Homo sapiens: one gene and its partners. The protein of the gene in region 3 interacts with the protein of the main gene of each other region in a biochemical or structural test. Each region holds a gene or a part of one and is shown on either strand. Other genes may lie near its edges.

The links.
Region 1: the proteins of SHROOM2 (region 3) and DGKK interact in a test that uses a peptide from one of them, tested with the Homo sapiens proteins (one large-scale study listed by IntAct).
Region 2: the proteins of SHROOM2 (region 3) and FRMPD4 interact in a test that uses a peptide from one of them, tested with the Homo sapiens proteins (one large-scale study listed by IntAct).
Region 4: the proteins of SHROOM2 (region 3) and SLC15A5 interact in a test that uses a peptide from one of them, tested with the Homo sapiens proteins (one large-scale study listed by IntAct).
Region 5: the proteins of SHROOM2 (region 3) and TJP2 interact in a test that uses a peptide from one of them, tested with the Homo sapiens proteins (one large-scale study listed by IntAct).
Region 6: the proteins of SHROOM2 (region 3) and RALBP1 interact in a test that uses a peptide from one of them, tested with the Homo sapiens proteins (one large-scale study listed by IntAct).
Region 7: the proteins of SHROOM2 (region 3) and TAMALIN interact in a test that uses a peptide from one of them, tested with the Homo sapiens proteins (one large-scale study listed by IntAct).

Annotation. Positions count from the first base shown.
Region 1 is NC_000023.11:50,468,026-50,472,099, forward strand, and holds the start of DGKK (diacylglycerol kinase kappa), read right to left. Parts: upstream 2,801-4,074; 5' UTR 2,654-2,800; coding exon 2,009-2,653; intron 1-2,008. UniProt on the Homo sapiens protein: Diacylglycerol kinase that converts diacylglycerol/DAG into phosphatidic acid/phosphatidate/PA and regulates the respective levels of these two bioactive lipids.
Region 2 is NC_000023.11:12,718,973-12,722,472, forward strand, and holds part of FRMPD4 (FERM and PDZ domain-containing protein 4), read left to right. Parts: intron 1-1,556; coding exon of another isoform or gene 1,557-1,561; coding exon 1,562-2,886; 3' UTR 2,887-3,500. UniProt on the Homo sapiens protein: Positive regulator of dendritic spine morphogenesis and density. Required for the maintenance of excitatory synaptic transmission. Binds phosphatidylinositol 4,5-bisphosphate.
Region 3 is NC_000023.11:9,946,686-9,949,943, reverse strand, and holds the end of SHROOM2 (protein Shroom2), read right to left. Parts: coding exon 3,007-3,258; 3' UTR 501-3,006; downstream 1-500. UniProt on the Homo sapiens protein: May be involved in endothelial cell morphology changes during cell spreading. In the retinal pigment epithelium, may regulate the biogenesis of melanosomes and promote their association with the apical cell surface by inducing gamma-tubulin redistribution.
Region 4 is NC_000012.12:16,218,686-16,222,185, forward strand, and holds part of SLC15A5 (solute carrier family 15 member 5), read right to left. Parts: intron 1-3,500. UniProt on the Homo sapiens protein: Proton oligopeptide cotransporter.
Region 5 is NC_000009.12:69,250,777-69,254,276, reverse strand, and holds part of TJP2 (tight junction protein 2), read right to left. Parts: intron 3,243-3,500; coding exon 2,913-3,242; intron 1,463-2,912; coding exon 1,377-1,462; intron 69-1,376; coding exon 1-68. UniProt on the Homo sapiens protein: Plays a role in tight junctions and adherens junctions. Acts as a positive regulator of RANKL-induced osteoclast differentiation, potentially via mediating downstream transcriptional activity.
Region 6 is NC_000018.10:9,482,013-9,485,512, forward strand, and holds part of RALBP1 (ralA-binding protein 1), read left to right. Parts: intron 1-3,500. UniProt on the Homo sapiens protein: Multifunctional protein that functions as a downstream effector of RALA and RALB. As a GTPase-activating protein/GAP can inactivate CDC42 and RAC1 by stimulating their GTPase activity.
Region 7 is NC_000012.12:52,009,946-52,013,167, forward strand, and holds part of TAMALIN (protein TAMALIN), read left to right. Parts: intron 1-546; exon of another isoform or gene 547-617; intron 618-935; coding exon 936-990; intron 991-1,093; coding exon 1,094-1,196; exon of another isoform or gene 1,197-1,237; coding exon of another isoform or gene 1,238-1,262; intron 1,263-3,222. UniProt on the Homo sapiens protein: Plays a role in intracellular trafficking and contributes to the macromolecular organization of group 1 metabotropic glutamate receptors (mGluRs) at synapses.

The DNA of each region.
Region 1 (4,074 bases), about 41 Mb from region 3:
TCCTGGTCTCCTGCCAGTGTTGCCAGATGTCTGTGGGTCAGCTAGCCAGCACGTCTGAGTGGGCACTACGTAGAGGAAACTAATCTGATTCCCCTTACCTTAATCTTCCTCATCTGTCTGGCAATGACATTTTCCTGTCAAACAGGTAGGAGATGCTTTCGCATGGGAGCAGGGGATGCTTTTCACTGGGGGAAGGGTCCTGGTCGCCAGTCAGCCTTTCAGAGGCCAAAGGGGAGATGCATTCTCTGGGTATTACGTCCCCACGTGTCAGTTTCACAGCCATGTTCCCAAAATTTCGCTTAAGATGGCCACAGGTCAGGTGATTCCTGCTTGTCTCTTTCCCACCAGCTTAATGCAAACTCTTCCAAAAAGACAAGATCAATCACCCGGTGAGGGTGAGCTCCCAAATCTAGCCACCCCAACTTTGCCCTTCTTAAGATCACTGCAGGAAAGGGTATTTTCAGGAAGGGGAGGGATACATCCCCTGGTGAGAGCTAGGGTGTTGAATTTTTAAAAACTTATCAGAGTCTCCCACCGTCATGTTTTATTTATTTTTAAACCTCTGCACTTTCTTTTCTCTGTGAAACTTTTCATTTTAGCCTTCTTTTTCAGTTATTCGTCATTGCAGATATTTTGCAAACTCAAGCCTCCCTACTAAGAACTCAGGAAGCAACCAATGCTTCCATTTCGTGATGCCAATCTGCCCCCTCCCCTCCCGCATTCTACATTCTATAAGTGTGCGGTCCACAGCAGAAGGGTTCCTGAGCCGTGTCCTTATGGTCTGCTAGGCAGCAGGATGGACCGGTATTGTTCGTGTGTTGTGTTATTCGTTTGTGTGTGTGTGTGTGTGTGTGTGAATGCGCGCGCGTGTGTATGTCTTCCTGCAGGGGAAGCTAAATTGAGGTGTGTGTGTGCATTATCCTGGTTTTCAGTTTTGTGGAACGAAGTTTAGGGTAAAGGAAGAGTAGGGAGAGTGCAGAGAAAGCAGGAAAGACAGGCATACTCCCGCTTAAGAGCAGACGGGGTTTCAGGGTCCAAGGTAAACACGAAAACCTTTTTCCTCCCTACTCCCCTTGGGCGAGTGCCAGAAGATTCTCCACTCATCTTTTCCCGGCTAAGTGTAACGATTTAGAAGGCGTCGCGGTAGACTGGTAGAGATGAAGGTTCCCCTTCACACGTTCTGCAATCCCAACTCCTATTTTCGTGTCTCTAAACCAGGACTCCTGTACCATTCCAATTGGCCCTGGTGCGGGATGCCAGTTGCCCCGTTTGTGACGCTGCGCAACATTGTATCACTGCGTTTGCACCTACCTGCTGGGAAATCCTGCAGACAGATGGAATGGTGGCTTCGACACACGCATGCTCTCCCCCTCCTCCCGGAGAACCCTGCCCTTCCCCTGCAGTGCGCGTGGGCGCCGCCCATCCCCTCGTCCTCACCAGGAGTACCAGCTCGAAGCAGCCGGCAGAGGCGCCGGGCACCTCCCTGGAGGGCCGCCAGTTGCGCCCAGCTGAGGCGCCCCCTCCCCAGTGGCAGGGAGGGGGCCAAGCAGGCGAAGGCTCCGCAGCTTGGGCCTCTGCGGCAGTGACCGCGGCTAAGAGGTGTGTCCCACCGCCCCCACTCAATCCGTCCGCTATGTATTCGGGGCCAGCCCCAAACACTTCTCCAGGTCTCTTGCGCTCCCCGAGGGTATCTTCCTCCTCTCTTTCAAGATATTGGCGCTCACCGCACTGTCGCTTCTCTTCAAGGGGAAAACTGCTCCGATTCCCACCCCCTGCTGTCACCCCCGTTTCTAGCCCCAAACAGCCCATTCTCGATTCCCACATGTTGCTTCCCGCCTCCCAACCCCTTCCCATTCCCCCGGGTTCCCCATCCCTGCATCTTTCTCAGCATCTTGGCCAGCCAGTGCCAGACAAGCGGGATGCAAGGGGTACCCGGAGTCCCGCGGGCTCCATAGCCATCTGACTTCGCCTTGCTTCTTTTCCCCGCTTCAGGGGGTCTTTTGCTTACCTTTATTCTGGACCACGACATTGGCGTTCTGGGCGATGGCGATGGCGATGGCGATGGCGAGGTCTTTAGACCTCTCTCTCGAGTGTCCACCGGACATTGCAATAGACATGGTGCTGGACTTGGACGGAACTCTGGAGCCGCCTCAGGGCAGAACTCTGGGGCCAGCTCTGTCACAGGTTCTGGGGTCGGCTCTGGGGCCAGCTCTGGGGCAACTTCTGGAGTCAGCTCTGGGGCCGGCTCTGGGACCGACTCTAGGGCAGGTTCTGGAGTCGGCTCTGGGGCAGACTCTGTGGCAGGTTCTGGGGCCGGTTCTGGGGCCGGCTCTGTGGCAGGTTCTGGGGCCGGCTCTGTGGCAGGTTCTGGGGCCGGTTCTGAGGCCGGCTCTGTGGCTGGTTCTGGGGTCGGTTCTGTGTACAGTTCTGTGGCTGATTCTGAGGTCGCCTCTGGACAGGGACCTGGAGCAAGCTCTGGACAGGGCTCTGGTATGGGTTCTGGCGAAGCCTCGGAGAGCAGCGGCGGAGCCGGCGGCGGAGCCGGTGGTGGTGGCGGCGGCGGCCAAGGCGGCGGAGGCTCTGGAGACTCAGCGGGCTGCTCTCCATCCTGAGGCGGGGCAGTGCCCTGGGCTGCGGCAGCTCCGCGGTCCATGGCCGCACACCGCTTCAGGTCTGGGCAGCCTGAGTCCCTAAGCCTGGAAGGCTAAAGTACCCTCGGGCGCCCCGCCCACTCCAGTCCGGCAGCCCCTCGCAGGGTGCCAAACTTTCCCCCATCCCACTCCATGGCTGGCTTGGCTCTGAGGTCTAACCCGTGGGCGCTCAGCGTCTCCCTATGCTGGAACACGCCCCTCAGTGTGCGCACACCTCTTCGTAAGCAGCCACGGGTCCGATGGGCGGGAAGCAGAGGGGCTTGCGAACGCGGACTGGGCAGAGCGCTTGATGACCTCCTAGCGACGCGCGGGAGGGGAGGGGAGAGACAAAAAGGGGAGGGGGAGTGGAGCGGCGTGGAGGTTGGGGGGCGGGCTGGAGCCTTGCCGTGTTTAACCCTTTAGTGACACGAATGAAAAAAAAAAGCCAGAGGCGAAGTTGAGGGTCTTTGCAATCCCCCAACCACTTAGCTGCTGGTCAGAATAGCTTCCATCCTGTGTCTGCTCTCTCACCTCAGCAGCAGGTGAGCTTAGCCTCGGACCAACCTCTTGCCCCCCATCTCCAAGCCTCGATGGGCAAGTAATGCTTTTTATCTAAGCCGGGAAAAGAAATTAAGCGGCATGGTGTGTGTGTGGTGGGGGGGGGGGGTGCGGGGGGGGCGGGTGTTCAGCCTCCTTTGGATTGAAGTACAATTTGACCCTCTTCGGTTTTTTGCATTTCTGAGCTTTGCCGTTGGGTACAGAGTTTGAGGTGATTCGGGAAAGGAGTGTGATGAGGGAGGCTGGCGCCCCGGCTTTCCGCAGCCTGCAGCCTCCCCGAGAGCAAGTCGAGAGTGCCCCGGCAGCAGCTGGGCTTCGCGCTCGGGAGCTGAGGCTATCTGGGCGTCTGTCTGGCTCGCCTATGCTATAGGAGCCTGCCTTGTGCTTTTAGCTGGATTTCCCAGCCATCAGCAGGAGTTTGTTTTTCCGCCCCCCCCAAACTTGTTAACGCGCGCGCGCGCGCGCGTGTGTGTGTGTGTCTGTGTGTGTGTGTGTGTGTGTCTTGGGCTGGGGAAATTCACTGCAACACCCACACCCTTTTCACCTCCTGAAGCAGTCTGACATTAGAGATGGGAGATTCTCTTGGGAAGAGAACGACTGATGCCTAGCGCAGCACCTTTCCCACCACATCGGAAGACTTTAGAAGCTCTTTCTGTTATAGTCACGTACACATACACACAAACCATCATCTTAGTCAGACCTAGACTTTAGACGCCAATATATTACCAATTGTAATTAAAATTTGAGAAGACTACCTGTTAAGCCACAGCTGGGTGGGGGGAGCGGACGGGGGAGAAATACCTGTAAACCTGATTTGAAATATGACAAGTGAATTTATCTCCCATACACATAATGCTGCAGTTGTGGGTAGCAGCCTTCTTTCTGC
Region 2 (3,500 bases), 2.8 Mb from region 3:
GGTGAAAATGGCATTTGCTCTTTATAATCTTACTCTGTGCTTGCTTTCAGAATTGGATGGGGCAATATGTTTTTCCTAAATTCTAAATGCAGATGTTTAGCAATGCCCAGTGTGACTTTTAGTTATATGATAGTATTGCTTAGAGTCACATAACAGTTTGATTTTCTTCCCAAGACATCTGAGTTCTAATTCTGCCATTTCATTATTGAGGGACAAGGAAGGATAAGAGAGCAGGGTATCAGGGAGATTGGAGGGGTTTGGAGAGATCATTTGCCTTTCGGCAATCTTACTGATTCCTCCCTACTCTGTAAGACTGCTCTATATGGATGTTCTGAAGTGTCTTGCATACCCCAGTGTCAGGAAGATTTTGAGGCTATTCCTGATGAGCTGCTTTATTTTCCCCAAAATAATAAAGTGTAAACACACGTAGAAAAAAGAACACATCCACCTTCTGTATCCCACCTTCACCACTCCACCACTCAATGGCAGGCATTCCCCTCACCGATCCACTTGGCTGGCCATCACATGGCAAAAGCAGATACTCTTTCATACTTTTATGTTTCAAATTATGTCATCAATAGTGTCTTTTCCATACAGGTCAATGGAAGTTAGTGACATCTTATATTGGTCATTTTCTATTCCTGTTCTTTTAAGATTTTCTACTTTCTCAAAACCCACCACTGGCTTTACCTCCTTTGGAAAAGCTGTCTGTGAATATCACCTAACTCATCACCCAACTGCATCTTTACCTCTAAACTAAGTCACACTGTTTAATCCTTCATGATTTATAAAGAACTTTCACCTGAGTTACCTCTTGCTTCTCACAAAAATTCTGTGAGATGGGGATTATTTGCTTCACATGACAGCTTTTCTTAAAGAAAAAAAAAAATGTTGAACAACTGGCCCAGTGTTTCAACTTCAGACTTTTACCAGGCAAACCTCATGCTGACTTCTTAAAAAGATTCACTTATTTAATTTGCACTAATTAAATTAGGCCACTTCTTTAAAAGAAAGAAAGGAAAGAAAGGAAAGGAAAGGAAAGGAAAGGAAAGGAAAGGAAAGGAAAGGAAAGGAAAGGAAAGAAAGAAAGAAAGAAAGAAAGAAAGAAAGAGAAAGAAAGAAAGGAGGAAGAAAGAAAGAAAAGAAAAGAAAAGTAACAATGCCAGATTTAACCTAATTCCCTTGAAATGAAACTTAATATCTCCAATATATTTGAATAATCTATACACAGTTGTTTTCTGTGTCTAAGCTTTGATGGGTAGATATTGGGAGTAAGGCAATTCATGAAATCCCTGAAAATGTTTGGGATTTCTAGACAATTCCAAATGAATCAGCAGTTCCAGAAATAACAGATTCCAGTATTTTCTTGATATTCATTAAAATGGAAATTTGTTATGAGATATCAAGAGGCAGTCTTTGGAAAGCAGGGTGACCTTAGCATCGGCAGCCCTTCCAGACTACAACCTTGAGAAATGACAGACATCATGTAGAGATGTAGTAAAAATGACCTCCCAGGAGATGCTTAATGATTCTCTCTGTTTTTCTACTACCCCTAGTGTAGCTTTGACAGAGCCTGGGAAGGAGAGACGAGGAGGCATGCCTTCAGCTTGGTCTCAACATCCTGAAGCTGATCCCATCCTGCTACCATCAAACATTCACTCGGAATCAAAGGTGCCAATTCCAAATCAAGACCCTAATGATTTCTCCCAAGCAAATCAGGCATACGGAGAGGCTGTGAGCTGGCGGCCACCGGATCTGAGAGGGGGGAGCCTCAGGACACCTCCCAGCCAGAAGGCTCTGAGACATAGCAGCAGTATCCTCTCCGGATCTGTCGATTTGGAGACCTTCCGAGAGAGAACCAAGGGTGCAGTCAGCTTAAAGTGTCCAGGCATCACAGAAGCACAGGAGGCCAGTTCTGAAAGGCGAGCAGAACTCCCCCTGGGGAGGAAGCTCACCAAAAGTTTTTCCCAAAGCTCAATGCACTTGAGCTCTGAGGGGAGGTTTCACAAAAGGTCCCCAGTGGCTCATAAAGACTCAAAGCTGTATAGGACATTACCCTTGCGGAAGCTGGAGGGCAGCAATTGGAGATGCCGGGGACCCTTCAGCTATTGCTTCCTGAACCGAGGGCAGGATGAAGATGGTGAGGAAGAAGAGGAGAGGGGAGAGGCCACCGTCCAGGTCTCTTGCCTCTATAGACCACAGATGACTCAAGCCATGCCAGAACCAAGCAGCCCATGCCTGGCTGTGGCGATTCAGAAGCAACGAGGGGAGCTATCCAGAGGGTCAGTGCTGAAGGTCTGGGCAGAAGACCTGCGAGACCCAGATGACTTGGACTTCAGCAACCTGGCTTTTGATGCCCGGATTGCAAGAATAAATGCCCTAAAGGAGAGCACATATGCAATGCCTGATGGGTTCCTTGCAGCCCAAAATGATGCCAATGAGCTGCTCTGTCTCGTCAGGGCAACCAAGGAGAAGAGGGAGGAGTCACGCCCTGAAGCGTACGACCTTACACTTTCTCAGTACAAGCAACTGTTATCCATTGAGTCCAGACAGTTGGGAAGTGCCTGTAGGAAAATGGCGATGGCTGAGAAAAGCCCGGAGGAGATGCTCCTAGCTATGACTTCCAGCTTTCAAGTGCTCTGTTGCCTAACAGAAGCTTGCATGCGATTAGTTAAAGTCGTGAACTCAGAAACACAGCGGCAGGAAATTGTAGGGAAGATCGATGAAGTGGTCATAAATTACATTTGTCTACTGAAAGCTGCCGAAGCAGCCACTGGAAAGAACCCTGGGGACCCTAATGTTGGACTCTCGGCGCGACACTCAACCACCATGGCCGCTCTCGTAAGCACACTGACACGTTCTCTCAAGAGGCTTTTAAACAAATAAATATGGAAGTCACGTCATAATCTACCTTTGCAAAGCCATACATGAACTTTTATTTACTTTGTGTGTATGATGAACAGATGTCTCCTTTCTTCTCTCTGTATATTTTGTTATTTTATATAAAATAGGAGATAAAAGTCACATTGATGAAATGTTGAAATGTACTAATCAGATGTATTCTGTTTATATTATACATATATATACACGTAAAAGAAATATCCAAGAAAGTGATGACATTTGGCTATTTTTCATATAGTTAAAACTCCAGGTATATGATGTGAAATTTTAAATTCTACCATGTTAGAGCAAAACAATGAATCCTATCCCCTTTCTTTCCAAGTAGCTACTTGGAAACCATATCATTCATATTTAGAAGTAAAACACAAAACAAAAAAGAGAGAGAAAAGAAAAGAAATCACAATGTATATAAAACAGTACTTATGTTTTAAAATTATGATTTTTAAGCATTGGAAATAGCAAAAAGACATTTAAAATTCAAGAAGCTATTATGAATTACTAGAGAATATATCTGTAATAAATTAATTTTTTGCTCATAGTATTTGGTTACTGGATGCTTTCTTCCAAGAATCCCACATATTTAATTTGGGTTTTTGCTA
Region 3 (3,258 bases):
TTTACGGTTCCTCCACTAAAAGGTGGAGCCTGTTCCACACCCTTTGGTGCCGGGGTTGGCCAGGAGATGTGCTTTGCCAGAAGAAGGTTAGCAGGTATGACAGGACAAAGCCAGGAGAAGCCCCTTTGTGACAGGGTGTGTTGTCTTGTGCCCCTGCCATGAACACATCCAGCCACACGGCTGGTCCCATGAGGAAGAGGAGAGGCACACAGCACAGAGCCCAGCCCGAATTAGCTCATCTACAAATTCATGAGCTAAGTCAATACTTTGTTGCACAGATTATTGCTGACATTTTACAGTTTGTTACACAGCATTACTGGGGCACCAGCTAAGTGATGCGACCTGGTCCCTGTTTCCTCACCACAAACCGACTAGTGTAAATAAATTACACACATATAATCAATCCCACGGTTTACTCAGATGGCTTAAGAATCTGACGTATGGTGAGGACATTCTTTTTTTACAAAAGCTGTAAAGTAGGTAAATCAAAGACATCTCCATTCACTTGAAGAGACACTATTTATTTTGTTACAGTCAAGCAGGATGATCTGTTGATAGGTGAGTGGTAAGTGTCGAGCATGAAATCTACACACATTTGCTGTGGTGGACTGAAGGATACAAGCCACAGGCCACCCCCCATAGGCAGAGCCCTCCACAGCCACACTACAAGAGGGCGAAGGAGCAGCTGCCACCCAACAACACCAGGGCCAACCATTAGCACCAGATTGATTTTCTATGAATAATACAACTAGATACAGAGTTATGGATGTTGACTCACTAGAATCTTTGGGTCCCCACTAACCAGACGTTTCAGAGGCAAACAGGGGAACTGACAGGACAGCTGGCTCTATGTGCTTTGCTACAAGGATACTCGAGCACGACGTATTGCTGTGTAGAAGAGAAAGTCCTAAAAAGACATCAAAAGGCTGAGTACAGACACCAATTGGATTATTCACATTTTACACACATATCATCAAAATGACCACAATACTGTATTTGAGGGCAAAGAATAACAGGTAAAAGCTCTGCCAAACAAAATACTCTGAAATTCCTTGGGTCGTCTCCCCGAGGGAGAAAGATGGGGGTAAGTGCACAGCCAGCTTCACCTTTTCAGACTGACCAGCATTCACGCAAGTGACTACCAGCTGGAGAGGAGGAGGAAGCTTCGCTGGCAGAACAGGGATTTTTCAAGTTAGCAAGAGCTTAATTTAACAGGAATACACACTTTTGGAAAGACATTTATCCTTTTGGCATTGGTAGGCTGCCAAAAAGGCGGTTTATTGCCTGCATCATTGAGCTTGCCAGTTTGGACTTGGCTCTATAGAGAATGCATTACCGTCAACACGGCCCCTCTGGCTCAGGAAGTGTGGATTCTAGTCTTTTAAGACATCTGTGTGTGTGCATCTGTGCACGCGCACGCGTCTGCTTTGGTAAGGCTGTGGTCACTGCTGCTGACAAAATGAAATCTCCATTCCACTGGAAAACTTCTTTTATGGGAATAAGGGGAAGTCAGGGTTAAAATGATCCGTTGATCCAACAAATGCCCTAATACGACCTAAACACGAAGTCACCCAAGGGATTCACTCACCATTAACATGCATTTAATTAAACATTTTTTGAAGAAATACACTGAATCTACAATTATTAGATAAAAATAAGTAAGTTATAAATTATAACCAAGCCATCGGCGGCTGAACGTCTTTTCGTGTGCTTGTTTGCCACGCGTGTATGCTCTTTGGTGAAGTGTCTATTCAAGTCTTTTGCCTGCTTTTCACTTGGGCTGTTTGTTTTCTTACTATCCGGTTTGAGAGTTCTTTGTACATCCTGGACACAAACCTTTTGTCAGATACACGATTTGCAAATATTTTCTCCCAGTCTGTGACTTGTCAATTGGGAACTGACAGCATGACAGTGTTTTCTTTTAACAAACCAGGCTCTCTTTAGAATCCTGCCATTTCAATCAAGGAAATGGGCATAGAATCTTTAAACTTCATGGCAGAAAAAGATCAAGCTCAGGAGCTGTGTAGTCCACGGGACCTCTGAAGAGGAAGGGGTCTTCCCGTCCATGGAATGTGGCCCTCATGCCATGCTAAACGATTTAAGGAGGAAACAATGGAAAAGTAGCCAATTATCACGGACAATCATATGCATACAAAATACATGGGGGGAAAGTAACTGAAAAAATCTTCTGTTGGTCTTGAGAAACAGCTAACAAGCACATTACTACTGGACACGCTCTTAACCAAAAAATTTTACTTTGCAGAACAACTGTGATGTGAGGTGAGAAGGACTAAAGCTATTTGCCTGCTTGGTGCGTGACTGTGTTTTTTAAAGCATGCACGTTATTTCTTTAAGTGGCAATTTAATCTGAGAATGAGTGAACCCAACCACACAGGTGGTTCCTTTCACAGTTGGTTTTTAACCATTAGGAAACTATTCACCCTTCCAAAAAGTTAATAAATTATCATCATCATGATGATGATTTCTGCTGGGTCAGAGAACATCATTAGATAACAGAGACAAATGCTCACACTGTTGAACGAGCAGGGACAAAACCTGGCAGCCCATGCCTGGATGAATGACAAGAGAAGATGAGCACCAGGGTCCCCCTCTCATGCACGTCATGACGCGCTGGCTGCTGTCCAAGCAGTTGGCTCAGCATCTGAAGACGGGAGGAACAACGGGTTTCCCACTGACAGTGACCACTCGGCAGGCACCACAGGCCCAGCCCACAGCCCATGCAGTGGAAACTCACATCCAGCAGAGCCTGGTGTCAGGTGTAGTTATGTGTAAAGGAAAATGGCTCTCAGCAATCAAAGGGGAAACTAAAAAATTAAATAAATCATCCCACACAAACACAAAAGTTATTGCTTTTATAACAGCCTCTTTGCTATGGGAGAAGTCTCTTTCCAGGCCATGAACACAGATGGGGTCTTCACGAGTATCCTTGGGAACGGAGCTGGAGCTCGGAGGCCCCGTGCCCCTCCTCCACCGGGGACTGGTCTCTTATTTGCCCCTTTCGGGCTGAAGGCTGTCCAATAAGCACTTCAGCTGCTCTTCACCAAGGTGGATTTTATCTTCCAGCTCCCGCTGCTCGATGATGAGGGCCGACTTCATCTTCACGAAGTGCTCATAGTCCGCGAGGCTCTCCTCGCTCAGATAGTTGGCCAAAATGTCAAAGACGATGCGCTCGCGGCGGTCCAGGTTCTCCTTGAGCTCCTTGGCGTCCTCGTGCTGCTGGATCAGGACTCTCTGCTT
Region 4 (3,500 bases), on a different chromosome or scaffold from region 3:
TATGAAACTGCCGTCATATACGTGATCCATCATTGATCAAAATGTTGTTACGTGTTGCATGACTGTACTGTAAACACTAAACATTTAGTTTCCTTCTCTATGAGAAGTAAGAGATCTTATTATCTCTTCCTGCTCCTCTCGGGAATATTTACCCCTGGTTTTTTGTTTGCTTGTTTGTTTGTTTTTAATACTTTGCTGCAGCAAAACTCTGCATTTACCAGAACTTTTCCATGATCTTACTAACACATGATGTAAATGTATTAATGCTCCTTCCTTAATTTAAAATTTCTGTTTTACTTTCGGTGTGTCCTGCACATGTCTTGATTTATTTATCCCATAAAGATTTAAAGGAATCCCATTTTGCACTTCAGGAAAGTGCTCAGTGCTGGAACTGAGAGGTGGGAAAAGGCATCAGTTTATCTTTCCTGGACTTTAAACTCTGGAGCAGAAACAGCACATTATTTAGTACAAAGGGCAGTGCTAAATGTGCACTTTTCCCACAAACGCTGATTGGAGATGAAGATAATAATGGTGATAGGTAAAATACTGTGGAGAAGGGCTTCAAATATTGGTGGCACGGTAGCACAGCTCTTTGTGTAGTACCAATCACCAGCAGGAACCTTGGAGTATTTTCAGAAAGGTCCAAATGGGAATATGAGAGGAAGCCTGAATAGGCTTTGGGAATAAATGATTCACAGTTATAAAAAGGATTTGGCTTATAAACTTTCCTTTCCATAAGTACAAGGAGACAAGCAATGAGCAGAAAGAGTAAGTAGGCCTATTTCTTTCACTAAGAAAAAGCAGAACATACAAGCCCATTATTACTCTGCTAGTTAATTATTAATCCTATGCTTTTCTCCTGCTAGAACTTCTGGTACGGTATATAATTCATGAACACACTTTGCCAGCTCTCTGCCTGCTGGTTAATCTCTCTTTGGTGTCATTTTAGTCGTTTTTGAAAACCTCCAGTTCCCTTTTATAGGACTTAGCTTTTCAAGTCCTCGAATCTTCATTTTTAGGCATCTACTTGCATGTTCTGATCTTTTGAAACTTTAGTGATCATCAATTTGATTTTTTTTAGGCTCCGAGATATTTCTTTTAGCCCATTACAATGTAGATAATATCAATAAGTCTGTCACTATTGTAAAGTTCCCGTTTTTCTATGAAGACACAATAAAAAATATTCAGTGTGTACGTGAAAGCTGGTCTTCTTGCCAATGAGCGCTAAAAATGTGCCTCCAGGTAGTAGCTGGTTAGTGCTTGTAAAGATGCCACATCACAGCATATGAGGAATCTTCAAAATATAGGGCCATAACCACCTTCCTAAGGCACCTGGTACTGGGGACTTATTGCTGGAAATATTTTTTACTCTCGTTGTTCTTAAACAGTTAAAATGTGTGTATTGTGTTTGGTGAAAAGTTATTTTGAACATGTGGAGAAGAAGTACCACAGTCCCAGAAAATGGAACTTTATCCTGTTGCCATTTTTAGACCATTATATCTCCCTTAACCCTAAAAAAGCTTCAGCTTTGAAGCTCATGTTATCAGACTATATCATCTACTTCCCTTTCATGCTGTCATCTGCCAATCTATAGGACATTTTCCTCTTTTTCTCAGAGTTGTCAGTTCCTCTCTCATTGTCACACTCTCTGGTACTACTTCTGCCTTAATACTTGGCAATTTTACTATACATGTAGATCATCCTTCCCACCTTCCATCCTTTCAATCTTGGTTGTCCAGTTCCTTGACCTCCAATGTCTGATCTCCAATCTACCTCAGCTTCCACTCCACTCACACCCAAGGTCATGGCCTATGCCTTGTACCTCAGACCAGTGGTTGGCCAGCTATGGTCAGGTAATATTCAGTTTGCCACCTATTTTAATAAAGTTTTATTGGAACACAGCCACGCTCATTTATTATATGTTGTCTATGGCTGCATTCATACCACAATGACATAGTTGAGTAATTGTAACAGAGACTGGCCTGCAAAACCATGTGTTGGATCAATAACTGTACCCACTCCATAATCACAATTTTGTGCACCCTTCTCTGATTAGAGCCTTCTATCTTCCCAACTTACTCTCCACTACTCAACCACAGAGATGCTATAAGCTATAATGGCAGAAATTTTTGTCTTATTTTTTTTAACTGATGTGTCTAAAACTTCGAGAGCAGTATTAGGCACACTGTAGACACCCACACAGTATTTTTTGAATAAACAAACATAGGGTATGAGACAGCTGAGGTGTACGCTGCTACAATTAAAACATAATTTGAAAAGTTTCCTACTGCTTTTTTTTTTCTAGCTCATCTCCAATGTATAACATGTCTTAGTAGGGTAGGCTATGTCTACTGTCATTTATGGAGTGATTCACTGTGTTTCCTTGCTCAATGCCATCAATGTAGGACACTGTCAAAAGTTTGAATAATACATTTTTATTGTACCATATAGAAATAGCCGTAGACTTCATTCATTTGTTTCTTCAATCAAAATGTATTTATTGATCACCTATTTTGTATATGTACTTTTCGGAAAGGAGAAACATACCTTGATGTCAGGAATGTATATTCTTACAGTGAGAGGCAGGCAATACAAATATAAATAAAGTAATTTCAGATTCTGACAAGTGCTATTTAAAAAACCAGGGTAATTAAGTGGAAAGTGATGGAATGCTCAAGGAAGCCCCTCCAAAGAGAAGACCTTTGAGAAAGCTCAATAATGAGAAGCCAGTCATTTGAAAACAGAGGAAAGGGAATTCTGAATAAAGGATAAAGCAAGTACAAAGGACTTGGGGTAGACAGAAATCTAGCATCTTAGAAACACACACATTTCTGGGGATGTGGTCAAGGGGCAGATTGTAACCAAATGTAGGTGGAACAACACGTGGAGACCAAATCATGTGGAACATTATTCACCATTGTGAATAATTTATCTCTAAAACTCTACTGTGGAATTTCAATCAGGGGAATGATAGAACTTATGTTTTGAGAAGAACACCACAACTGTTTTGAAGAGAATGGACTCATGGGGCAGGAGAGGAAGCAGGGAGAAAAGTTCAGAGGCTCTGGTCGAATTGGGGCTGGAGATGATGGTGTTGTACACCAGGAGAACAAAGGGGATAGTGAGATGTGGCCAGATTTAAGTTATATTTCAGAGTAAAAATGAGGACTTGCTGTTGGATTGGAGGGGAGAGGTGAGAGGAAAGAGATGGATCTAGGATGAATCAAGTGAGAGACAGTTCTGCTTATGCTTCCAGGTCTCCCAGCTGTTCAGGTGGTTTATGGCAGAAAGAGCTGGGAACAGGACACCTGTGCTTCTGTTCTGAGTCTGACACTATTAATTCATGTGAAACATGATAATAATATTAGGTTGGTGAAAAAGTAATTGTGGTTTTTGCCATTACTTTTAGTAATGATAACAACACATTATAACTGCTAATTATTGAATGCTGTCTATATACGGGGCACTGCGGTTTTTGCTTTACATAAAATCTTCCACTT
Region 5 (3,500 bases), on a different chromosome or scaffold from region 3:
TGCCATAACTTCCTCTGGTATCCTGATAAGGTCTGGAAGGAGCTTTCTGTGGCTCAGGGGGTCTGGAACTAACAAAAAAAGGGTGTTAAAGACATTCCAGAGCACATCCATGTCCTCCGGCTGCCCGGGGAGGCATGGCTCTGAGCACAGTGACTGGGTATCCCGAGCAGATCACTTACCTCTGAGCCACATTCTGCAGAGCAACCAGGGCATCCCTGGTCCTGCTCCAGGTTCGTAATAGGTCAAATCCAATGCCCACTTCGGCGGTGAGTGAGGAAGCCAGCCAGGTGCTCCCTGACCTAAGAATCTCCCTGTTGGACAGGGGGTGCCCTCCTTACCCCTAAGCTCCCTGGCTAGTCTCACCCAGCAGCGAGGTCTCTGCCAGTTTCAGTCCATCATAACCAAGAACTCTTTGTTGCCAGAGGCAACCTGGTTGACTGTGTTACCACTCAGCTGGTAAAGAAGAAATTTGTTTCCAGTTTTCTATCACTGGAAAACTAGACTTCAGCTTCCAGTCAGAATGGCCACAAGAGGCTGGGTACAGTGGTTCACACCTGTAATCCTAGCACTTTGGGAGGCCGAGGCGGGCGGAGGTCAGGAGTTTGAGACCAGCCTGGCCAACATGGTGAAACCCTGTCTCTATTAAAAATACAAAAACTAGCTGGATATGGTGGCACACACCTGTAATCCCAGCTACCCGGGAGGCTGAGGCACGAGAATCGCTTGAACCTGAGAGACGGAGGTTGCAGTGAGCTGAGATTGCACCAGTGCACTTCAGCCTGGGCGACAGTCACTCTGTCTCCAAAAAAAACAAAAGAATGGCCACAAGAAAATGTGACTTTTTTTTTTCTATTCTCGGAAGCAGGAAGCAATCCAGTATAAAACTTCAACAGGAAGACACTGTGAACATTCCTACTGTTTGTGTGGCATTTACCAAGACTGCTCATTTGCTTGTCACGGTCCCTTTAGACCCCAGGGCAGCACAAGCGGTCTGACTTTGCTGGATGATGCAAAGGAATTAAGAAGTTTGGCTGAGAGTCAGCAAACAAGACAAAACAGGTCTAAGCCGTAGGAATTCTGCTCATGTGCTAACCATGTGCAATGTAACATAACCAGGCTCCAATGTGTCAAATGTACTGGCTGGAAACATCAATGATTACACTTTGTCAGAGTTTTAGCACACAAGCAAACTATGCTTAAGTTTTGACTCTGTAATCTTTACAATTAAATTTGATGGAATGAGTAAGGCAAACAGTCAATCTGTGGGGAAAAAATCCTCCTGTTACTCTGAAATTTGGGTAAAGGAAATTCTTTCTTCAAGTCCCAGTCCTTGAGAAGTCCCCGCCTTAGACCTGTACCCACTAGGCAGCCCTTACCTCGTGTGCTGGGGCGTGCCAGGGTCTGGCTTGTGCGTTTTGATTGGAACTGCATAGATATCAGGATGCTTCTGGGCAATTTCGATCTGTGGTAATTAAAAAAGAAAAGAATAAGAGTGAAAGAATGAACCACTGGGCACTCTGCTTGCTGGTTTCCTGCTGGTCCCACCCTTTCCCCATATCCTACTTATTTTCCCATCCCATTTCAAGAAGAGGAAACACAGAAGCGGCCTCCTCATTTCCATGGTTATGTGCGGTACACGTCAGACAGGAAAACTATTTAAAAGGAATGAAACTCTGACACATGCTACAACCTGGATGAACCTTGAGGACATCATGCTAAGGGAAATAAGCCAATCACAAAAAGACAAATAGTGTATGATTCTACTTATAGGAGGTTCCTACACTGTCCAATTCACAAAAAACAGAAAGTAAAGGAGTGGGTGCCAGGGACTGCGGGGAGAGGAGAGTGGTGAGTTAGTATTTTATGGGTACGGAGTTTCACGTGGGAAGGATAAAAAAGTTTTGGGGATGGATGGTGGTGATGGCTGAACAGCAATGTGAAGGTACTTAATGCCGCTGAACCGAACGTTTTAAAATGGTTGAGGCTGGGTGCAGTGACTCATGATTGTAATCCTAGCACTTTGGGAGGCTGAGGAGGGTGCATTGCTTGAGCCCAGGAGTTCGAGACCAGCCTAGCAACATGACAAAACCTTGTCTCTTCAAAAAATACGAAAAATTAGCTGGGTGCAGTGGCATGTGCCTGTGGTTACAGCTATTCAGGAGGCTGAGGTGGGAGTATCTCCTGAGCCTGAGAGGTGGAGGCTGCTGCGAGCTGTGATCACACTGCTACACTCCAGCCGGGGTGACAGAGGGAGACCCTGTCTCAAAACAAAACAAAACAAAACAAAATAAATAAAAGAAAAAAGTGGTTGAAATGGTAAATTTTATGTTATGTATATTTTACGACAAGAAAAGAAAAATGCTCAGATGTACTGCTGCTGTTGTGCTAGACCTGAAAGAAAACTCCCACATCTACTGGGCAAATATACTCCACAGACCTTTAGTTAAATTCTTCTTTGTTTGAAAAGTTCTATGTGCATATGGTATACAAATTCAAACAGCTCAAAAAGTACAATCTATGGGCCTTTCTGTTTTAGCACCCAGTTTGCTTGGTTTCTACGGCAAATCTGGGAGCCAATGAAGACACGTTTAAGAAAAAAAAATCACATTCTAATTAAAACGACTTCCGAGAGGCACTGATTCCCTCCTCACACTTCCTCATTCCAGAACTCTATACAAAGTTCTGTGTATAAAGAGCAGAATCTTCTTCCCCTATATTGTCAAGTTTTCTTCTTTGGAAGAACAAGGGACGTGCTGGGAGCTGGCAATCTGAAGTGACATACACAGCACCTGCCTTTGGTGCAGTGCATCCCTGCCACATCTGCAGCAGCAGCAAAGGGGCTGTTCGCTGTTATGTTGAAATCAAACTTATTTAAAACTCTTATTGATGATGTGTAGTTTAAAAACAATTACCCTTGCATTCTGTGCTTCCTGGAGCTCCTGCATTCTCTGTAACCTGGCCTTGTGATCCATCTTCTCAAATATTTTGACTTTGCCCAGGACTGATTTGGGAGCATTATCTTGCTCCTCACTGCTCTCTCCCACCTCCTCACCCTCTTGAGGAGGGATGGGAGTGGAGGGCTTCAGTATAGACCGCCCAAAGGTAGGTTTTGCTGCAACAGGAGGAGGATAACCTTTGGTAGATGCCCCAGGAGTTTCATTACCAGCAACGGCAGAGGGGTTTGACTTATATTCATAGGATTTGGAGAAGTCATAGGATTCTTCTTTGTTCTGGGTTTTGGCCTGCGGAGAGCAATGACACGTTTTCACCCTGGGCTTTTAAGTTTATTTTCAAATCTATATTAGTGATTTAATACACTCCATTTCCTGATCAGTTTCCAAAGGTGGTCCACAAATACCATTCTGACAAGGAATGTAATACAGCAGGGCAAACAGCCACTGGCCAGGCTTCCTGAGCCCTACCTCCCTTCCTATACTAGTCTATTAGGAATGTCAGGAAGCCAAAAAGGAATAGGGAAAGTGCTGGGAGGGCTGTGATTG
Region 6 (3,500 bases), on a different chromosome or scaffold from region 3:
GGATATATTAGCACTTCATATTTTTTATTGCAAAACAGTACTCTCTTATCTGGATATACCACATTTCATTTATCCATTTATCAGTTGAACATCTAAGTCGTTTCTCCTTCTTGACTATTCTGAATAATGCTGGTGTGAATATTCATGTACAAGTTTTTGTGCGGGCATACGTTTTCATTTCTTGTGTATATACCTAGGAGTAGAATTGCTGGGTGTGATGTTATACAATAAGAAATATATATTTGGTCTTGGTCTGGTTCCTAGCCTAGAACTTCAAAGATCCTTGGAACTCCCTGAGTAATAGAGGTAATAGAGCATATTTTGGAATTCATAATAAGTCTCTCAGTCACATCTGAATTTATGCTAATAAAGTGATTCTTGGTAGGCCCCTAGACAACTTCAGGATGGAAGCTGGTTGCCAGAAGAACCAACTGTGTTGATTAGAGAGTTGGAACTTGCAGCCCCACCCCTGGATGGGTGAGGGGGTGGTGGTGAGGACTGGGTATTGAGATCAGTTATCAGTGGCCAGTGATGTAATCAATCATGCCTGTGAAATGGGACCTCCATAAAATCTTCTAAACAGTGGTTTTCAGAGAGATTCTGGGTTGGTGAATGCATCCTTATGCTGGGAAGGTGTTGCTTCAACTTCATGGGACAGAAACTCCTATACTTGGAACCCATCTCGGCCTCACCCTTGTGCCTTTTGATTTGGTGGTTTATTTATATCCTTTATAATAAACTGATAGGCATAAGTAAAGTGTTTCCCTGAGTTTCGGTGAGCCATTCTTGCAAATTATTGAACATGAGGAGGGGGTTGTGGGAACCCCTATTTATAGCTATTTGGTCAGAAGTACAGGTGGCAATGTGCAGCTTGTGGCTGGTAACTGAAGTGAGGGTAGTCTTGTGGAACTAAGCCTGTGGAGTCTGACATAAACTCTGGGCAGTTAGTGTCAGAATTGAATTATAGGGCACTCAGTTGGTGTCTGGAAAGTTGGAGAACTGTATTGGTATGGAAAAACACTTCCACATGTGGTGTCAGAAGTGTTGTTAGAAAACAGCTCATGTGGTAACTCTTGTTGAACAGTTTGAGGAACTGCCAAATTGTTTCCCAAAGCGACTGCACCATTTTATAATCCAATTCTCCAATTTCTCTACATCTTTGCCAATACTTGCCATTTGCTTTTTTAAATTTTAGCTATCTTGGGGTGAAGTGGTATCATGTTGAGGGTTAGATTTTCATTTCCCTGGTGGCTAAGATGTTGAACATCTTTTCATGTGCTCATTGGCCATTTGTATATTCTCTTTGTGGAAATATCTACTGAAATCCTTTGTCCATTTTTGAATTGTATTGTTGGTTATTGAAAGAGTTCTTTGTATGTTTGGTTACTAAATGTTTATCAGATATATGATTTACAAATACTTCTGTTTTCTGGGTTGTCTTTTCACTTTCTTGATAATATACTTTTGATGCATTAAAAGTTTAAATTTTACAGTATAATTTATCTGTTTTTTTTTGTTTGTTTGTTACACAGGCTTTTGGTGTCATGTCTACATTGCCAAATCCAAGGAATGAAGATTTATTCCATACTTTCTTCTAAGAGTTCTGTGGTTTTAGTTCTTATATTCAGTTGTTGGTCCACATTTTTATATGGTGTGAGATAGGGGTCCACGTTTTTTTGTTTTGTTTTGTTTTTGAGACAGAGTCTCACTCTGTCGCTCAGGCTGGAATGCAGTGGCACAATCTCAGGTTACTGCAATCTCTGCCTCCCAGGTTCAAGCAATTCTCATGCTTTGGCCTCCCGAGTAGCTGGGATTACAGGCGAGCGCTACCACGCCCGGCCAATTTTTGTATTTTTACTAGAGATGGGGTTTCACCACATTGGCCAGGCTGGCCTCAAACTCCTGGCCTCAAGTGATCCACCCACCTTGGCCTCCCAAAGTGCTGGGATTACAGGCGTGAGCCACTGCGCCCTGCCAGAGGGGGTCCACTTTTTTGCATGTGGTACTCTAGTTGTCCCATCCTCATGTGTTGAAGAGACCATTATTTCCTGATTGAGTGGTCCTGATATCCTTGTTGAAAAATCAGTTGACCACAAATGTCTGGGTTTTTTCCCCTGGACTCTTTGTTTGATTCTCATGGTTGATATAGCTATCCTTATGCCAGGTACCATGTGCTGTTTTGATTACTGTGGCTTTGTAGTACATTTTGAAATTGAGATGTGTGAATTCTTCGACTTTGCTGTTTCCAGTATTTGTTGGCTCTTCAGGGTCCCTTGCAATTCCATATGAAACTGAGGATCCATTTCTGTAAAAAAGGCCATTGGAATTTTAATAGAGATTGCATTGAATTTGTAAAACATTTTGGGTAGTATTTCTGTTTTAAAAATATTAAGTCCTCCAATCCATTAACAATAGGATGTCTTTTCACTTATTTAGTTTGTCTTTAATTTCTTGCACAATATTTGTAGTTATCAGTGTCAAGTCTTTCACTTCCCTGGTTAAATTTATTTCTATTTTTTTTTTAGGTGCTGTTGCAAATGAAATTGTTTTTTAAATTTGTTTTTCAATTTGTTTTTCACAATTGTTTTTCACAATTGCCTAGTGTTTAGATATACAACTTATTTTCTGTCACCTTATATCGTGTGACTTTGCTGAACTCCTTATTAGTTCCCATAGTTTTCTAGTGTATTCTTTTGAGTTTTGTATATAAGATCATGCTGTCTGTAAACAGAGATAGTTTTACCTCTTCTTTTCCTATATGGGTATCTTTTATTTATTTATTTTTCATTCCTAATTGCCCAGGCTAGAACTTCCCATACAATGCTAAATGAAAGTGGCAATAACAGACTTCCCTGTCTTGTTCCTTATCTTAGGAGGAAAGCTTCCAGTCTTTTACCATTTAGTATAATGTTAACTGTGGGTTTTTCTTTCTTTTCTTATTTTTTTTGAGACACGGTCTCATTCTGTCACCCAGGCTGGAGTGCAGTGGTACAATCATGGCTCACTGCAGCCTTGACCTCCCAGGCTCACGTGATACTCCCACTTCAGCCTCCTGAGTAGCTGGGTCTACAGGCATGAGCCACTATGCCTGGCTAATTTTTGTATGCTTTGTAGAGACAGGGTCTCCCTATGTTGCCCAGGCTGGTCTGGAGCTCCTGGGCTCAAGCTTCTGCTTCAGCCTCTCAAAATGCTGGGATTATAGGCATGAGCCACCATGCCTGGCAACTGTGGGTTTTTCATTGATACACTGTATCAGTTTAAGGATGTTCCTTATGTTCCCAGTTTGTTGAGTACTTTGTTGAGTGTTTGTCAAGTGTGTTGCTTAATTATCTACATATTTTTGAAGTTTTCAACATTTTGTCTGTTATCGATTTTCAGTTTCATTTCATTGTGATCAGAGAACATACTTTGTATGATTTTAGTCTTTTAAAGTTTATTGAGGCATCTTTTATTGCCTAACATATGATCTGTCCTGAGACTGTTCCATGTGCACTTGAGAT
Region 7 (3,222 bases), on a different chromosome or scaffold from region 3:
CAAAGAAAGCCTAAAGTATTTACCATTTGGCCCTTTGCAGAAAAAGTTTGCTGACCCTTCCAAAAAACCCTAGAACATTGGGGTAGACGCGGAACTCCCAGCCACCCTGCTCCCTGCCCCAATAGTACAGAGAGGGGAAAGGCCTGCTGTTCAGAGTGAGAGGGGCTCGAGCTGGAGTGGGGAGGTGCTGCTCAGCATTTGGGGGAATCTCTGGGTCAGGCTGGAAGCGGAGAAGCCTGGTCTCCAGGGCCTTTCCGAGGCTGAGCTACTTGAAGGGGCCTTTGGAGGCTGCTTTAACTGTGCCTCTGGCTGGGCGGGAAGGAAGGGGGTGGGAGTGGGCAGAGGAAACTCTGGGCTCCCCCAGCAGGCGAGGATCTGGAGCAGCTCCAGACCATTGTGTCCAGCGGGCAGGCCTTCAGTGCGGGAAGGGGCGGCCTCGAGGCTCCCCTCCCCCAGCCCCCACATCTGGTGGGCTGGCCCCAGCATAGCTGGGAGGAGCAGCTGTGGTCTTGCTGAGCCTCGTGACTGGCCTCTGGGGGTGGGGCCAGTCCTCTCTCCAAAGCTGTGGAACAGAGGAGGCTCCAGGCTGTGGCTGAATTTCGGGCCTTAGCTAGTCAGTAAGTGGTACTGTAGGGCTCACTGGAAAGCTGGGATGGGGCTAAAAAACTCAGCCGGCTCATCCTTCAGGGGACCGGCCCTTCTCTGTGCTTCCCTCCCACCACTAGAGGCTGGATTGGTTCTCTGTGGCTCCATGAGGCTGATTTCAATTGGGTATGGGAAAGACATTCCAATAATCTGTGATGAGACTGAGCTGTCACTGGAGACAGAGTCCTGCTGGAATGTTCTAGACCAGTTGCCAATATCCAGGGAGGCCCAAGCTATGGGACTTCTACACCTTTTAATCCTAATTGTCTTGACCCCTGTGTCTCTTGCAGGAAAGTGCTGACGTTGGAGAAGGAGGATAACCAGACCTTCGGCTTTGAGATCCAGGTGGGAGAAGCTGCACACAGGGGTCAGGGGGGTTGGATGACCAGCCTGAGGGATGAACGGACTTGTCCCAACCCTGGGCTGAGGGTCCCCTTGTCCATTACAGACTTATGGCCTTCACCACCGGGAGGAGCAGCGTGTGGAAATGGTGACCTTTGTCTGCCGAGTTCATGAGTCTAGCCCTGCCCAGCTGGCTGGGCTCACACCAGGTGGGGCCTGAGCCCAGGACACCCAGGTCTGGGAAGGGGATATGACCTTACTCCCAAGCAAAGGGGGTGAGCAATCTCTCCTGAAATCAATTCCTCTTCCTTTTCCTTCTTTGAGAAGGCCAGAAAGAAGAATGGATAGAATCTGGGCTTTGGATCTAGGCAAATTTGCCATGTACTGTGTGATCTTGCACAGCCCCATCTACAAAATGAGGGTAATAATGCATCCAAACATCACAGTGCGGCAAGGGGATTCCCTGGGCACACTGCCAGGGCCTAATTAATGGTGGATGATGCTGCTGCTGCTCTGATTCCTCCCAGCAACCCTGGCAGTCAGCATGGGCAGGAGCCAGGGAAGAAGCAACATTCCATTAAGTCTGTTTGATATTGGGGATCAGGCCAATCCTGCCCCAAAATGGGCCCAGTGCTGAGGAACCGATGTTACTCCCTTTTAAAAAATTAGAAACTTTTTTTTTTTTTAAGAGACAGGGCCTCAGTCTGTCACCCAGGCTAGAGTGCAGTGGCGTAATCATAACTCACTATAACCTTGAACTCCTGGGCTCAAGCGATCCTCCTCTTGCCTCTGCCTCCCAAAGCAATATGTTACTTCCTCTAACAAGGAAATTATGCTTCAGCAGGAGATCCCTGGATTGAGCAGATCTAGAGTCCCCAGGTTCCAGGAAGGGCAGCCTGAAACTGTATGAATCAATCCCCCCTCCACCATCTTTGCCCCTAAGCCCCTACCTCCTTCCCACTTACCAGCAGCCCGTGCTAGCTATCTTAGTCCATTTTCTGTTACCATAACAGAATACCTGATACTGGGTAATTATAAAGAAAAGAGGTTTATTTAGCTCATGGTTCTGGAGGCTGGGAAGTTCAAGACTGGGTGGCCGCATCAGGTGAGGGCCTCATGCTGCGTTCTGACATGATGGATGGCATCTCATGGCAGGAACGCCTGCAAGAGTGGTGAGTAGGCACACGCAAAAGAGACAAAACATGGGTGATCTTGCTTTATAGCAACCCACTCGCCAGGTAACTAAACCAGTCCTACCAGAGCAAGAACTCACTCCCCAAAAACAGCATGGATCCCTTCACTGGGCAGATCCTTCATGGCCCAAATGCCACTTTTTTTGAGATGGAGTTTCGCTCTTGTTGCCCAGGCTGGAGTGCAATGGCATGATCTCAGCTCACTGCAGCCTCTGCCTCCCAGATTCAAGCAATTCTCCTGCCTCAGCCTCCCGAGTAGCTGGGATTACAGGCACTGGCCACCAAGCCCAGCTCATTTTTGTATTTTTAGTAGAGATGGGGTTTTGCCTTGTTGGCCAGGCTGGTCTCGAACTCCTGACCTCAGGTGATCCACCCGCCTCGGCCTCCCAAAGTGCTGGGATTACAGGTGTGAGCCACGGCGCTCGGCCCCAAATGCCTCTTAAAGGTCCTACCATCTCTCAGCACTGTTACGTTGGGGATGAAGCCTCAACATGAGTTTTGGGGACAAACAATATTTAAATGGTAGCAGTAGCCAAGTGGTATACTACAACTTCTCAAAGTAGTTTCAAATCCACTCTCCCTCCCCATCATCCCTGAAGCATCCACAGCAGGGATCCATACCCCTTTTTACAGATAGGAATGGGGCCCTGACATGGGGCACACTGTGCTTGAGGTCAGGAAGCTCTCCAGTGGTGCAGGGTAGCAGAACTATCCCTCTGGGGGCCAGTCATTCCCTGTGCTTCTCTCCCACCACCAGAGGCTGGACTGATTATCTGTGGATCCATGAGGCCATGCCATGCCTGGGGCCAGGGTCGGTTCCCAGCTGGGTGCTGCTCACCTGCTCTTCCCTGAATTGACTGGGTCTTATGGCCAGCGTGGACTGGACAGAAATAACCAAATCTGAGGGTAGCCCAGGGTCCTGGGTGGGCTTAGCTTTGGGACAGAACTTCTTTTTTTTTTTTTTTTTTTTGAGACGGAGTCTCGCTCTGTCGCCCAGGCTGGAGTGCAGTGGCGCGATCTCGGCTCACTGCAAGCTCCGCCT